Regions from separate parts of the Homo sapiens genome. Here region 1 is linked to region 2. A link means that fine-mapping ties the variant in region 2 to the expression of a gene that starts in the linked region. Tissue or cell type: monocytes. Region 2 holds a variant in brackets; the other region holds the start of a gene. All regions are shown on one strand. Distances are from middle to middle.

Evidence for each region. PIP is the estimated chance that this variant, and not a neighbour inherited with it, causes the effect.
Region 1: ENTPD1 starts here. The variant in region 2 is fine-mapped to the expression of ENTPD1 in monocytes (Fairfax 2014, PIP 0.95).

Annotation. Positions count from the first base shown.
Region 1 is chr10:95,754,928-95,757,611 of GRCh38, forward strand. It overlaps ENTPD1 (ectonucleoside triphosphate diphosphohydrolase 1), which reads left to right and starts at 1,236. Exons shown (of 10, transcript NM_001776.6): 1 at 1,236-1,328. The coding sequence starts at 1,313. It overlaps ENTPD1-AS1 (ENTPD1 antisense RNA 1), which reads right to left. Exons shown (of 6, transcript NR_038444.1): 6 at 1-1,787. RefSeq lists an enhancer at 797-1,096 and a silencer at 2,427-2,486.
Region 2 is chr10:95,692,871-95,695,554 of GRCh38, forward strand. It overlaps TCTN3 (tectonic family member 3), which reads right to left and starts at 1,057. Exons shown (of 14, transcript NM_015631.6): 1 at 774-1,057; 2 at 483-606; 3 at 50-168. The coding sequence starts at 1,029. It also overlaps a transcript of ENTPD1 not described here. RefSeq lists enhancers at 762-1,041, 1,516-2,017. The variant A/T (reference allele first, on the strand shown) is at 1,552.

The sequences.
Region 1 (2,684 bases), 62 kb after region 2:
TCGCTGGAGAATATAGTTTCTACATAGAGTCAAAACAGTCCTTCGGGCTCACAAATTTAATGATTTATATGGTATAACTGGCTTTAGATACAAATTTACATGCCAGACAAGCAATGTAGAAAAATCAAGAACTAGGAAACAGGAAAACAGATCTACATTTCTGCTTTGCTGCAATTCATTCATTTTTTTCAACCATTCATCAAATATTTATTGAGAGCCCATGCTGTGAGAGAAACTGTATTAGGTGCTGGGGAACATGGTAGCAAATAAGAGAGACCATGTATGTGAGCATGAGCAGGTGGCTTAACCTCTCCACATCTCTAACCTCTTTTAGACTCAATGTCTGAGGTATCTTTCAGACCTGAAATGCTAAGGTTTGCAACAGCCTTGTGGAGGGAGAAGCTGCCAAGTCGCCTTGGGACTTGAGGACTTACCTTCCTTTCAAAGGATTAGCCCTTGTTTTGATTTCAAAATAATTTTGTTACACAGTTTAAAAATAATTTGGTCAGGCTCTCATCTACATTGGGGTAATCTTGACGGTCTGGATGTGGTAATTCATGCTCATTAGACTTCAAAGGTAGGAAGTCAAAGTTGGGAAATGGTGGATGACTTTCATCAATTCATAGCCAGGCAGCGGTTCCCATTGAGCAGCTCCTCTGTGGTTCCACCCAGCCTTCCAACCAATAACGCAGCGTCTCCTGCAGGAAACTCATCGCTTGGGTCACCTGTTGCTCTTTGCTCTAATGAGCCTTGAGAAAGGATTGCTGGTCATGGGACCAGAGGCTTTATGGGGAGGGAAGAACTGTTCTTGACTTTCAGTTTTTCGAGCGGGTTTCAAGGTAACAACTTTCTTATTATCTAGCTTCATAATTGCAGTAAGGAATAGCTTTTTTTGCTTGCAGCTGAGATGACTTTTTCAAGGGAGAAAAAGGGATTTCTATAACGAAGAGAGGGAGAGAGAGATGAAGAGGGAGGGAGTAAGGGAGAGAGGGAAGAAGGGAGAAAGAGAGAGAGATTTGAATATACATTGCTTCAAGGATGCAAAAAATTACAACCTGGAAAAGGCTTCGAGTAACTTTAGGAAAATGAGCTGCTGGACTCCTCAGTCAATCTGTCCTTTCTAGTCAATGAAAAAGACAGGGTTTGAGGTTCCTTCCGAAACGGGGCCGGCTAATTTAGCCCCTCCCACGAGCCCAAGGGTCTGTTATATCTCTGTTTCCTTGAGGACCTCTCTCACGGAGACGGACCACAGCAAGCAGAGGCTGGGGGGGGGAAAGACGAGGAAAGAGGAGGAAAACAAAAGCTGCTACTTATGGAAGATACAAAGGGTAAGACCAAAATTGATTTGATCTGAATCCTTAAGAAAAAAAAAATAGAAGGAAAAATAAAAGCCCAGACCAAAAAGCAAGTACTTGAAAGCTGGAGGCAAAAAGCCCTGAATGAACTTTCCCACCCTCTTCCTTCTGAGAGGAGGCAGAGAAAGAGCTTTGGGAAACTTTTTAGGAAGCAGAGTCCAGGGTTGCAGTCAAGGGTGGCTCTAGAGCAAGCTGGAGGGGCTCATGAATATTCATTATCAATTTGTATTCAGAGTTGGTTTTTTTAGAGGCAAATGACTTTTTCAGTCCCCTTGCAGTTTAAGAGGCAGCTGCCTCATCTGCAGTCCGGACTCATCTAGCCTCGGGTCTGTACCTCAGGGTGTTTGCTTGAAGATGCTGGGCTCTGCGTGTAGATTTGTTTTGTTCTCGAATTTCTTGCATGCTTTCCTGTTGTGAAATTAGCAAAGGCTTCTTTGCTGGGAACAAGACAGAGAAGTTAATGTGGCACAAGGCTGTCACAACAGGACCCCAGAGTATGTCTTTCAAAATGCTGAAAGTTTCTTGAGATATGTGGGGGAGTTTTATGTGGGGGACAGAGTGGGGGACGGGGACGGGTAGAGGGAGGAAATAGAATAATTCTATCTTAAAAGGGCAGGTCACATCTGACTACATTTAGATTTTGTCTAAAAACTACAAGAGCAGCCTGGTTTGCACAGATGGTGTGCAGTCTCTATCTTTTACCTCTTTTGGGCATTTTCTGCCAAGACGGAGAGCCAGCTGCTTGCCAGCGTGTGAGAGCCAGGAAGAATCTCTGCAGCAGTGAGGGAGTATAGGGTTGTAAACCTCCTTCTCCTCCTTCTTTATCATCTCTAACTTCTAACATTCCCACATGCTTATACCGTATAGAACATGGAAGAATAGCATGAGTAGCCAACATATTTCTTAATACTTACAATAATGATAGCTGTTAATGTTGACTAAGTCTTTATTCTGTGTTGGGAGCTATACCTAGCATATTACATGTGCTACTTACTTGTCACATGAACCTTACAAGTGCTATCATTGACATTCCCATTTTCCAGATGGCATAATTGAGGTACTGAGAGGATAACTTGCCTTGAGATCTCATAGTTAGTAAGGGCTGAGTGTGGATGGAGGTGGTCTGAGGCAGGGCTGGTGGGCTTTTCCACTCCCCAATACTGTTTCTCTGCTTTTTCTGGTGCCCTGACATTGTGGATTTCAGGTTTGCAAATCCTTGAAGCTACTGGGGAAGTGATACTGGTAAAATCTTAAGTCTGTGAAGGAATTTGTACTTTGCACTCAAGTTCACATACATTTTCCTCATTTGGTGCTCATGGCCATTCTCTA
Region 2 (2,684 bases):
TAACACTCCTGTGTTAGAAAATGAGAACAACCAACATGTTTCTACTCACAGTTGTTCACATGGACACAAAACTGCCTGATTCCATTAGAATCCATGAAAACTCTTGAAGGAAACGGGGAATTACTCCTGAAGATAACAGAGTTGTCTACACAAACCCAGCTTGAAGACCTGTGAGGAAAGAGGAGGGAGAAGATATATTTAGAAGGGGCGGGGCAGGTCCAAAAAAGAGTGTCCCAGCAATATCGGCCAGATGATGCCAAAGAGGACTCCTTGGGCACCTATAGGACGACACGAAGGTCTTATTCTACTGGCCAGCCCTGCTCTAGAGAATCAGAAAAGGCAATTCCTAGGAAAAACCAAGGGAATGTCCTAGGAGTGGAAGTACGGGTGGGAGGCACAAAGACTAACTCTTCTTACATCCAAATGTTACCCGTTGTAGGCCCCAAACCCCTTTAGGATTCAGTCTGAGCAACGAAGCTCACCTTACGCTGCCTGGAAGGCAGAAGGAGAAAACTGTCCTCGGATGGAGAAGATAGCAGTCCCTGTCGCAGCAGCAATTTATATCGCAGGCTCCAGGAGTCAAGTCACAGACACAGATCGGTAAGACTATGAAAGTACGACACAGAGTGAGTGGGATGAAGATCCCCAAACTCTCCCAGGTGCTCACCCTCCTTCTTCCGACAGCCCCACTCCTGCTTTGTGGCAGCTCAACTTTGCTCACAGAATTTTAGATCTCAGAAGTAAGTTTCCACCCCCACAACGTTTTCCCTCACCTGGGAAGAGGTCCACAGTCCTATTCCCAGGGGCCGAGGGAGTCACGAGAGTAGGGACCACTGTAGGGAGTCCAGGCACGGCCGGGCGAGTTGCAGTCGCCTCTGAAGGGGACTGGAGGGTTCCGCCATCCGTCCCTCGCTGCAGCTCCAAAGACGTGGGCACTGCCCCTGATGGGGAGGAAGAGGGCTGAGGCCGGACGCCATCGGGGAACACCAGAAAGAACACTTGCAGGAGCGCGAGCTGTGGGGTGCGCATGGGGCATTCAGGGCCTCCGGGTCCGACGTAGGCCTCCGCGGTCTCCAATCGCATTGCCAGAGCGTGGGTGGGAGGAGTCGCATAGCGTCTGACGCCATCCGCGTGCCTCTTCTCATTGGCTCATGAGAAGGCTGAGAGCTCTTCAACCAATCGAAAGTGGGGTTGTTACAGCTCTTTCAGTGTCCTTCGGTCTGCGCCCTCCTCCTTAACGCGGGCCGGGCCGTGCCTCCGTTGCCTGGCAACCGTCAGTGACGAAGAAGCCCTTGCGCCTTCCTTCCGCTAGGTGGCGGTAGGAGTTCGGCGGACCGAGAGGTTCCGCGCCCACTTCGCGGCCCAGAGGACTGAGCCCGGCCTCCGGTGCAAGGAAACCCCAGAGGCCGGAACTAGAATTGCAAATTTTTTTTCACCCCGGATTCCAACGGTGAGAAACCCTTTCTATGGAAGAATAATGTTCTCAGGTGGGGGAAACACACCTAAGGTCACATACCTTAAAAAACAGTCTCCTCTAAATATGGCTTTTTT[A/T]AAAAAAAAAAAAACACATTAGAAATAATGTTCATTCAGCTCCTTACATTTTAACATTGAGAAATTTTGAAAACCCTAAAGAAATGCATCAAATCATTAAAGATGGACTGCATGTTTGTTGTTAGAAAAAGCAGTGAGAGAAAAATAAGAAAAAAGGGCAGGAAAAATGTGAGAAAATAGGGAGAGAAAGAATAAAAAAAAGAAACATTGTCTAGGAGGTGAGAAAATAAGATGGAGGAATGGAAATAGAAGATTTTTTTCCCCGTGTTAATGGCAAATTTTTTAAGCCTCTCTAGGAGGTTTTTGTTCTTCCCGGGAATGGCGTGCCTCTTCCGATTCCCCACAGCAGCGCGGGCCATGGGACTTTCCTTCGGTATTGGAAATGTACCGTAGCTGCACTGTCCAGCATGGTAGTCACCGGCCTTATGTGGCAATTGTGCGCTTGAAATGTGGCTAGCGTGACTGAGGAGCTGATTTTTTTTTTTTTTTTTTTTTTTGAGACGGTGTTTCGCTCTGTCGCTCAGGCTGGAGTGCAGTGGTGTGATCTCAGCTCACTGCAACCTCTGCCTCTAGGATTCAGGTGATTCTTCTGTTTCAGCCTCCTGAGTAGCTGGGATGACAGGCACGCGCCACCACGCCCGGCTAATTTTATTTTTATTTTTAGTAGAGATGGGGTTTCACCATGTTGTCCAGGCTGGTCTCGAATTCCTGACCTCAAGTGACCCTCCCGCCTTGGCCTCCTAAAGTGCTGGGATTACAGCTGTGAGTCGCTGTGCCTGGCCTGAATTTTTAATTTTTAAATTGTAATTAATTCAAAGTTAACCACAGACGTGAGTAGCTACCATATTGTACAGTGGGACTGTAGATGATCAAAATATTGCTCCTCCTAGACCCAGTATTTTCCTATGTCCACGGTTCTGACATCTGGATTATTTTGGATATTTAGTTTTAGTATATAAATTAACATCTGTTAAGAGTTATCTAAAATCTAGTACACTTACCTAAAATCTGGTCAACACCTCCCTTTACAAGTGAATCATTTAACTCAGGTAAGTTTTAGGACATTTGACTTTACTTGAATTCTCTTACAAGATCTTTATTTTCTAATGTTTTGAAGTCAGTAGCTAAAAGTC